Linked DNA regions of Homo sapiens: region 2 is linked to region 1. Evidence: fine-mapped expression QTL. A gene starts in region 1. The other region holds a variant in brackets. All regions are shown on one strand. Distances are between the middles of the regions.

Region 1 (5,372 bases):
TTGATCTTTTCTAAGCTGTTTTCCTGGAGATCTGATCTGTGTTGAACATCCAGCTGGCTGAAGCTTTAACAAAGCCAAGATTAGAAGCACACGTTGGGTGGGGGTTGCTGTTGGTATTGTGGGCTCCAGAGGGGCCCATTAGTGGCAAAACTGGGGCCACCCAAGGGATGGGTGTGGAGGAAGAATAGCTGCCCTTCCCGATCCCTTCCCTGCCCCCATTCCACTTGCCTCCCACGATCTTGGTTGTCTGGGAGAAGGTCTGCACGTGGGTGGTGGAGCTGGAGAACTCCATGGACACGTGCTCCTGCAGCATCTGCCGGCTGTGAATGGTTGTCATGGTGACAGCAGGCGTGGGCACTCACCTGTGAGACTGGGGAAGAGGATGAGGCCATGAAGGACAAGACAGGGAGTAGGAGGGAGATTCAGAGATGTTATGTGTGTGTTCAGACATAAGAGGAGATGGAAGCACACAGGAGAGGGCCAGGAGAGCAGTCGAGCTCTCTTTTCTTCATTTCCTAGCTTCCTTTTCCTGGTTAGTTACCAGACCCAATAGGCCTGTCCTCTCACTGAGTAACTCCAAACTATTCCAGGGTCTCAGAGGGAGAGGTTATAGGGCTTAGACTTACCCAGCCAACCAAGTAAGGCCTGGAGGGAGTTGAGGATACCTATTGATAGCTACATGGCACTAAGGAGGCAGTGCTGGATGTTTCATCAGGAGGGAATGCAGTCAGACCTAAGAAAGAACTTCCTGACTAAGCCATACTGGAGTGGGCTTTAGAAGGAAGCTGTGTCTCTTATTCCTGGGCCCTGGGGACCCCGGCACTGGTGGAATGCTAAAACAGATGACAAAACATCACTACAATTCTGCTTGTGTTTGCGACATGGTAAAGGCAAAGGTTTAGTTTTTCTTACATTTTTCTTTGAACTGGTAATTCAATCACATAGTTAAAGAATAAAACAATATAAAAATCCATATGGACAGGCTCCCTCCCACTCCTGCGTCTATCTTACAACCTTCCCCATTGCAACAGGTAGCCAGTCTCTAGGCTCCTTCTAGACCTCCATCATGCAAATAGGAAAACTCATGTGTTCTTATCATCTTCCTTTTTTTTTTTTAATTAAAAAAGCACATAAGGTAGCCCATTATACACACTATTCTGACCCTTTCTTTTTTCATTTAATGTGTCTTGGAGATTTTTTCCATACCAGATGATAGCGTTTCCTCATTCCTGTTCAGAGCACCATGTTTTCTCAATGTTTTATTTAACCAGCATTGCGGTTTTTTTTGGGTGATCTCGGCTCATTGCAACCTCCTCCTCTCGAATTCAAGCCATTCTCCTGCCTCAGCCTCCCCAGCAGCTGGGTTTACAGGCACGTGCCACCATGCCCAGCTAATTTTTGTGTTTTCAGTAGAGACAGGGTTTCATCTTGTTGGCCAGGCTGGTCTCAAACTCCTAGCCTCGATTGATCCGCCTGCCTTGGCCTCCCAAAGTGCTGGGATTATAGGTGTGAGCCACTGCATGTGGCCAGCATTGCAGTTTTTTTGTTTTTGTTTTTTTGAGACAGAGTCTTGCTCTGTTGCCCAGGCTGGAGTGCAGTGGCACGATCTTGGCCCACGACAACCTCTGCCTCCCAGGTTCAAGCAATTCTCCTGCCTCAGGCTCCCGAGTAGCTGGGACTACAGGCACCCGCCATCACACCCGGCTAATTTTTTGTATTTTTAGTACAGATGGCGTTTCACTATGTTGGCCAGGCTAGTCTCGAATACCTGACCTCGTGATCCGCCCACCTCAGCCTCCCAAAGTGCTAGGATTACAGGCGTGAGCCACCGCGCCTGGCCCAGCATTGCAGTTTTTAAAGTCCTATTTCGTATATGAGGAAACTGATGTCTGAAAGAAATGACCTGTCCAAGGTCACTCAGACTAGACTCCTAGCTTTTGACTCCAGTCCAGTGGCGTCCCAGAGGGCTCCAAAGCCTTCTTTAACCCAGGTAGTTAGGGGTTAAACTCTATTCCCTCTCTCCACCCCCTAATATATCTCTGCCTGGGCTGCTTCTACCTTTGGGTTCTGAGACTACTCCCCTGTTCCTATTCCTGCCCTCTACCCTATAGTCCCCTCTGGGCTCAGAAGGTGGTCAGCTTTGTCCCCTTCCTGAGGGAGGAGGGGAGCCTTACCTTCAGCACTGACCAGTCCCTCCCAACACTCGAATGCTGTGTCCACGGCTTTGGAGGCTCAGCTAGTGCCTGGACTGTAGGGTGGCCCGTCTCCTTCTTCCTTTGCCCCAACAGTGAGGCTACCAGTGTCATCTGTTCCTTAAATGTCTGGCCCCCTGGGGGCGATTCCTTAGTCAGGCTCTGCAGCTGTCTCAGCTAGATGGCACACTGCTTGGTTGTGGGGGGAGGGGGAGGGCGGTGGAGAAGGGAGGCGGGAAGCAAAGCTGGATCCAGGCTGGGGGAAACACTGAAGGCCAGGCGGGAAGGAGGCTGAGGGTGGCAGTCCAGGGGTACTTTTTTTGTTCCCTTGTGGTACAGGTTTTGGCTCTCACTGCTGCTGGGTAGGACCTCTCTGAGCTGAGGGGCTCAGGGTAGTGTGTGTGCACAGGCACACACTCAGGTACAGGTGCATGCATAGTCCAGCAGGGCTCAGGGAGCAAAGCAACAGGTCTGTATTTTCCAGGGACTGGGACACGGTGAACTGGGGAGGGCCTCTGGGATCTGCTGCGTTGCTACACAAATCCAGGGGTTCCCATTCATGTTGCACTCCTATGTGTGGTTCATACACAGCCTGAGTATCTTTACAAGGCCACCCTGGGGAAGAACAGGGAAATGTTAGGTCTCCTTCCTCTTCCCACTTCAACAGCCCAATCTCCCTAATCTGGGTAGAAGAGTAGGAGGGCCCATCCTCCGGGGGTTGTGGGGAGGTCTCTGCTTGAGGGTGACTGGAGAGTATGGCCACCTCTTCTCAAGGACTTCCATCTGGGCTGCTTCAGCCACCTGTTGTTTTCTTTTCTTTTCTTTTTTTTGAGATGGAGTCTCTGTCACCCAGACTGGATGCAGTGGCACGATCTTGGCTCACTGCAACCTCTGCCTCCCAGGTTCAAGCGATTCTCCTGCCTCAGCCTCCTGAGTATCTGGGATTACAGGCGTGCACCGCTACGCCCGGCTAATTTTTGTATTTTTAGTAGAGATGGGGTTTCACCATGTTGGTCAGGCTGGTCTCGAACTCCTGACCTCATGATCTGCCACCCCTCGGCCTCCCAATGTGCTGGGATTACAGGCGTGAGCCACCGTGTCCAGCCCACCCTGTTGTTTTCTCATCATCTGTAGCACACCCCGCATGCCTGGACCCTGGATCCCACCCAAGGTTCTGGCACCTTGTAAGGACTTGTTGGTCAGCACCCTTGCCCTGGACCCCTCCTTCTGCCCTGGGGTGACCCCCACCTGCCAGCAGTGGCATCATGGCTACTTTTGCTCCATCCCAGGGGGGCAGGGGACAAGAATAGAGCAGGAGTGTCCAGGATGGCTCAGGATCTCAGCCCACATGCAGATTCCCTGGGCCCCTTGGGAGGAGCTACTCTGAGCCCAGGCCTTACAAGGGAAATTACTGGGCTGCAGCTGCTGTTGGGATCTGTGGAGCTAACATGGGATAAGAGTTTGGCCAACAGGGAGGGGCCTGGGTGTGACCTGAATGTCTCCTTACCCTAGCCTTGGCTTCTCTGGCACATCTGTTGGAAATGGTGACCTGCCAGCCACTGTGCCTTCCCTGGAAGCCTTCCACACCTGTCCTTGAGGCTCCCCATGGCCCAGAGCATGTGTCAGGGCCAGGGCTGAGGCTGTGTGAGAATCCTGCAGAATGTTCCCAGTTTGGCTTTACAAATTTGGACTCGCTCCATACTCCCAGTCTCCACAAGGGGCTCCAGTGAGCAGAAGGGCCAAGCTCACTGTGCTCATGCTGGGGAGGGGCACAAAGACCCAAGTACAGGAAGGAAGGCAGTGGAGGGGAGAGGCAAATCACACAGACCCAGGAGGTTAGTTTTGCTCAAAATGCTCCGTTTATTGCTCTATTCAATGACCACGAGCGAATTATAAAAAGACACCAAATGTCTCTGTCTGCCGTGGGATAAATATTTAAAGTCAGCAATAAAAACACGTGGCTCCAAGATAATACATGTTGCCAAAGAGTCATGCATGCCCTCCTGATGGGCTCTCAACACACGCATGGACATGGGAACACACGCAGAGCAACACGCAGTGAGACTTCTGGGAAGGCTTTCCCACAGTGACACAGAAAAATGTCTCACGTAGATCTGGGCTGAGTCCCCACCCAAACCTTGAGCTCCCCTCCCCTCCCCAACAGGGCCTAGATCCTCTGGGTTCTCCATGCCCCATCTGCCCCCTACCTTGCCAGTGCCTCACAGGCTGGGCACCCTCCTGAGAGCATCTGACACCCAGAGGCCACCCTGGCTGTGATGCCCACTCCAACCTAGAGAACTCTCCCTCAGCTGAAAGCTCTCTGGTGACCTTCTGGAGCTCCCCATGCCTAACTCCCCGTCATCTGCCTTTTGGGAGAAGTGCGGGTGAGGCCGAGGCAGGCAAGTCCGGTTGCTTAGGGGCTGGAGCTCATTACCCCTTCCTGGCTGAGGAGACACAGTGTCCGGTACAGAGGGCAGAGATGGATGGACAGACAGAACACATTGCAGCAGGACACAAAGTGTAGCACGGAAACATTCTGGATCAGGTATTGATGGAACCATCGTTAAAAACTGGAGCCCGGGGTCTGCGTGGTGTGGGTCAGGCCCCGGGGCCCCAGGCCTGGCCTGGCATGTCCCTTCCCGACCCTGCCCCCCACTCCCCAATATGTACAGTAGGAAGAGCAATGCTGGAGGGTAGGGGTCAGGCCAGGCTGACAGAGGACAGAGGGAGCTGACTGAAGGGGAGGAAGCGGGGAGCAGGCCCAGGACCCGAGGCAGGGCCCTGGGTGAGGGCCGAGACTCAGGCTGGGCAGTGCCCAGAGAACCTTGTAGGAGAAGCGCAGTCATTCTGGGGACTGGTGGGACAGCTGCTTTTCGTAGAGGCTCATGACGTGGTGCACAAACTGGTACTGCTCGCATGTCTGGATCATGCCGCCCCTGCCCGGCAGAGATGCACAGTGGGGGCAGGGTCGTGGAGGGATGGGCTGTGGGAGGTGCCCCAAAAGCCATGGAGTAGCAATCACTTGCCAGGCCTTGCCCCTGTGCGTCTTGGAGAGACCAACCCTTGCCAACCATTACCCTCTGCCCCTTCCTATCAGGGACACAGATGACATGTCCTACCACTTTCGGCCTCTGTCCTTTTATCCACCAGCTCTGCTTTTCTTCCCTCTTCATCTGGCCC
Region 2 (5,372 bases), 58 kb before region 1:
CCAAGTCCAGGTATAACATTCCTATTGGAAGCCATACTTATATTTTCTCGTAAAGTGCTTTTGAATTAATAAAGTATTAGAAAAAAAAATTCAGATTGCTGAAATTTTGGGGAGATTAATTTGAGCAATAATAAAATTCTGGTCTCCTATACAGCCAGTTCTGCATGAATTAAACTCCTTCTGTATTCTAATTCCCCTGTCTTTTCTTTTTTTTTTTTTTTTTTGAGACGGGGTGAAAGCAAGTTTATTAAGAAAGTAAAGGAATTAAGTAAATTATTAAGAAAGTAAAGTAAAGGGAGTCTCGCTCTGTCACCCAGGCTGGAGTGTAGAGGTGAGATCTTGGCTCACTGCAAGCTCTGCCTCCTGAGTTCAAGCAATTCTCTGCCTCAGCCTTCTGAGTAGCTGGGATTACAGGAGCCTGCCACCACGCCTGGCTAATTTTTTGTATTTTTTGTAGAGACGGGGTTTCAGCATGTTGGCCAGGCTGGTCTCGAACTCCTGACCTTGTGATTTACCAACCTCAGCCTCCCAAAGTGCTGGGATTACAGGCATGAGCCACCACGCCTGGCCACAGTTCCCCTGTCTTGATGCATCAGCTTTGTCTAGGCAGCAGGCAAGGAAAACCTGTTGAGTCGTTACACTGCCACAGCCCCCAAATGAAACAGTTATATATGCTTGAGTTTTCCCTCCTCCCCTGGGCACCCTCTGAGTTATGAAGGTTCCTCCTGAAACCAGGGCCACATAAAGTAAGGGAGGAGACCATCCCTCATATTGTCTTATGCCCAATTTCTGCCTCCAAAGAAAGAAGAAGTAAAAACTAGAAGAAGTAAAAGGCAGAAATGAAATCCACAGGCAGACAGCCTGGCACCGTGCCCTGGGCCTGGTTAAAGATTGACCCCTGACCTAACCAGTTATGTTATCTATAGATTGCAGACATTGTATGGAAAAGCATTGTGAAAATCCCTGTCCTGTTCTGTTCCGTTCTGATTACCAGTGCATGCAGCCCCCAGTCACGTACCCCCACCTGCTCAATCGATCACGACCCTCTCATGTGGACCCCCTTAGAGTTGTGAGCCCTTAAAAGGGACAGGAATTGCTCACTCGGGAGCTTGGTTTTTTGGATATGTGTCTTGCCGATCTCCTGGCCGAATAAAGCCCTTCCTTCTTTAACTCAGTGTCTGAGGGGTTTTGTCTACAGCTTGTCCTGCTACAAAAGGAGCACATTATTTCAGTCAGCACTGTGCTGATCTGTGTTGACTCCCAGGATGGGAACAGGACAGTATTTCCCAAACTTTAATCATTTCAGAAGCTGCCTTATGACTTTTGCCATTTCCACTTATTATCTGTACTATTCAATCCCTTTTCTTCAGGTTTTTAAAGATTAAATTTTTTTTTCATTTTTTTTTTTTTTGAGACGGAGTCTTGCTCTGTCGCCCAGACTAGAGTGCAGTGGTGCGATCTTGGCTCACTGCAAACTCTGCCTCCTGGGTTCAAGCGATTCTCCTGCCTCAGCCTGCCACTGCACCCAGTTAATTTTTGTATTTTTAGTAGAGATGGGGTTTCACCATCTTGGCCAGGCTGGTCTTGAACTCCTGACCTCGTGATCCACCCGCCTTGGCCTCCCAAAGTGTTGGGATTACAGGCGTGAGCCACCGTGCCTGGCCTTAAATCTGTTTTAAAAAGAAATCTGGGAATTCACTATCACTCGACTTAAATAGAAGGCAACTGTAAAAACATATGCAATAAAATGATTAAGTTCTGACTAGATACAGTTTTAAAAGAAATTAGCAAAGTGTTTGGAGCTAGGATTCAAACCCAGGATTGAGCCAGAGACAAGGTCTTAACAACGGTGATTCATGTACCGCCTAACCGTGCCATTTAGGAAACCACTGGGGAGGAATGTAGTAGAATGGAACTTGCTGAGAATGAGAGCCAGTGAGGAATGGTGGAGGGTGGGGACTGAAATTTAATGGGAAGCCTTGGAATAGGGTTGCCAGATATATTACAGGACACTCAGTTAAATTTGGATAAAAGTATGTCACAACTAAAAAGGTACTTGCTTGTTTGAAATTCAAACTTAACGGGAGATCCTGCATTCTTATTAACTAAACCTGGCAATCCTAAAAACTTAACGGGAGGTCCTGCATTCTTATTAACTACACCTGGCAATCCCACCTAGGAATCAAGGGCATGATTCCAGCAGGAAATTTATCCTCAGGGAGAGGCAGGCAGTAGTTGCGTCTGTGAGGCCTGTGGTAAGACTAACCCCTGTCACTAGGCAGCAGTAGAGAACCGAGCAGAGCAGGGGGAGGGGCTGATAGTGGGGAGAGAAGAGCGGACGGGTGTGGGACTTTGGGGCCGCTCTAGGTCCTCATGCAGAATCTCAAATCAAATTAGCAAAAGACAGGAACAGGCAGCTCACAGACAAACAGCTTATACATGGCTAATAAACAAGAAAAGACGGGCTGGGCGCAGTGGCTCACGCCTGTAATCCCAGCA[C/T]GTTGGGAGGCTCCGGCAGGCGGATCACCTGAGGTCAGGAGTTCGAGACCAGCGTGGCCAACACGGTGAAACCCCATCTCTACTAAAAATACAAAAAATTAGCTGGGCGTGGTGGTGGGCACATGTAATCCCAGCTACTCAAGAGCCTGAGGCAGGGGAATCACTTGAACCCGGGACGCGGAGGTTTCAGTGGGCCAAGATCGTGCCATTGCTCTCCAGCCTGGAGGACAAAAGTGAAACTCTGCCTCAGAAAAAAAGAAACAAAGAAAAAAAAGAAAAAGAAAAAAATGCATAGTCCTACTCATAATTGAATTAGTCAACCTAAAATGAGTTCTTTTCCATCTCTCAGATTGGCAAAAATTTAAATATGAAAAAGATTACTAATACTGTGTTGTGGAAGTGTGAGAAAATACTATGTAGAGCAGAGACTGGTCACAGAAATTCAGGGACTGGAGTTTTTAAGGTTAATTTGGTGGGTAGAGTCTCAGGAAGTGGGGAATGCTAATTGGTCAGGTTGGAGATGAAATCATAGGGAGCTGAAGCTGTCCTCTTGCGCTGAGTCAGTTCCTGGGTGGGGGCCACAAGACCAGATGAGCCAGTTTATTGATCTGGGTGGTGTCAGCTGATCCATCGAGTACAGGATCTGCAAACTATCTCAAGCACTGATCTTAGGTTTTACTGTAACCTAAGATGTTATCCCCGGGAGCAATTTGGGGAGGTTTAGAATATTGCAGTCTCCAGCTGCATCTCTCAGACTGGCAAAAATTAAAATATCAAAAAAGATTACTAGTACTCTGTTGTGAAAGTGTGAGAAAATACTATGTGAGTAGAGACTGGTGCATCCTCTTTGGATTAATATCAAAAGAAGAGATGCACATAGCCTTTAATCAATGACGTAACTCCCAGGGATTTATCAGACAGATTTACTCTCCCTTAGATGTGGAGACATAAGAGGTTGTAAGTGCAACCTGGAGCTGGGTTGCTAGTCCATAAAGCACCTTGGATATCAATGTCGACTCCGCCAGCTGTGATGTCACTTGACCAATGGGAGGAGAGAGGGGAAGCGCTGGCTTAGGGAGCTGAATGTTGTCCACTCCCTCTCCCTGCCCTCTACAGCTTTTTCCCCCCAGCTGTGGCTGCTCTGGGAAGCAGAAGTAAATATTGATTTTTAGAACCATCTAGACCTGATGTCAAATCTGGTTCTGTCACTTACTTGCTGTGTGACCTTGTCCTAGCAAGTTCACCTCTCATTTTATTTTATTTTATTTTATTTTGATATGGAGTCTCGCTCTGTCGCCCAGGCTGGGTGCAGTGGCGCAATCTCCGCTCACTGCAAGCTCCGCCTCCCGGGTTCACGCCATTCTCCTGCCTCAGCCTCCCAAGTAGCTGGGACTACAGGCGCCTGCCACCACGCCCGGCTAATTTTTTGTATTTTTTGTAGAGACGGGGTTTTGCCATGTTGTCCAGGCTGGTCTCAAACTCCTAACCTCAGGTGATCCACCCACCTCGGCCTCCCAAAGTTCTGGGGTAACAGGCGTGAGCCATCACATCTGGCCTCACCTCTCCTTTTCATTCATTTGATGATACATGTATTCAAAAATATTTATTGAGAATTTACTACTAGGCACTGCAATTTTGTGGTGAACAAGACAAAGTCTCTTTATCTCTTAGAACTTTCAGGCATGCAGGGTTGTTGGGGAGACACAATAAACAAGAAAACTAATAAATGGTGTAATATGGAAATGGTAGTAGATACTAAAAAGACAATAAGATAAGATGGTTGGGTATGGTGGCTCACGCCTGTAACCCCAACCAAGGCAGGAGGATCTCTTGAGCCCAGGAGTTTGAGACCAGCCTGGGAAACATAGTGAGACCTTGTCTCTACTATAAACAAAAAATTAGCTGGTGTGGTGGTGTGCACCTGTGGTCCCAGCTACTTGGGAGGCTGAGGCAGGAGGTATCACCTCAGCCCGAGAGGTGGAAGCTGCAGTGAGCCGTGATGGTGTCACTGCATTCCTGCCTGGGCAACAGAGTGAGACCCTGTCTCAAAACAAAAAACAAACAAAAACAATAAAATAAGATAAAATGATACAGTGACCAGGGATGTTGCTTATATGTAATAGGAGATGACAATTCTGTTTCACAGGGTTGACATCAAAATTACATAAGATACTACATATGAAGCACTTAGCATTGTGCCCGAGACAGGGTATTAATTATGGTAACAATTACTGAATGTTTGTAATGTGCTAGACACTGTTCCAAGTACTATGGGTAGACTAACTCATGTAATGACCTTGTTTTCCAGATAAGGAAACTGAAGCACAGGTAGGCTGAATTACTTGCCTAAAGTCAGGGAATTAGCAGAGGATAGAACTGTGACATTCTGGCCTCAGAGCCTACAGTTTTAACTGTTTTATTAAATATTAGTGTCTGTCTGTCTTTCATATCTTGATTAAAGGGGGCTGGAGGGCCCCGAGGAGGGCATGCTCAAATCTGTAGGAGGTGTGGGGGTTGGAGGCCAGGTGGAACCTAAGGCAGCTTGTGGAGCAAATGCAAGGGCACTGGAAGGTGAGTCACCATGTAACCTGGTGATGCTACTATATGACAAGAAAGTGAGAATTGAGGATAATGGAGTTATGAGATAATGGAATAAAGAAGGTGTCTTACTTGGCTCAGGCTCTGGCTGCGATAACAAAATATAGTTGACCCTTGAACAACATGAGTTTAAACTGTGCAGGTCCACTTATATATGGGATTTTTCCCCCATAAATACACTGAAAAATTTTTTTGAGATTTGCGACTATTTAAACATACAGATCAGCCAGGCATGGTGGCTCATGCCTGTAATGCCAGCACTTTGGGAGGCCGAG

Evidence for each region. PIP is the estimated chance that this variant, and not a neighbour inherited with it, causes the effect. A credible set is the group of variants that fine-mapping cannot tell apart.
Region 2: its variant is the best candidate, but not a certain one, in a credible set for the expression of IGSF22 in sun-exposed skin (GTEx, PIP 0.63).

Annotation. Positions count from the first base shown.
Region 1 is chr11:18,723,900-18,729,271 of GRCh38, forward strand. It overlaps IGSF22 (immunoglobulin superfamily member 22), which reads right to left and starts at 2,289. Exons shown (of 23, transcript NM_173588.4): 1 at 2,175-2,289; 2 at 229-370. The coding sequence starts at 337. It overlaps PTPN5 (protein tyrosine phosphatase non-receptor type 5), which reads right to left. Exons shown (of 15, transcript NM_006906.2): 15 at 4,029-5,128. The coding sequence ends at 5,035. All of the region lies in intron 2 of IGSF22-AS1 (IGSF22 antisense RNA 1), which reads left to right.
Region 2 is chr11:18,666,400-18,671,771 of GRCh38, forward strand. It overlaps the pseudogene SRSF3P1. Among named protein-coding and RNA genes, the nearest start is that of TMEM86A, 30 kb to the right of the region's middle. RefSeq lists a silencer at 629-829 and an enhancer at 2,057-2,558. The variant C/T (reference allele first, on the strand shown) is at 2,500.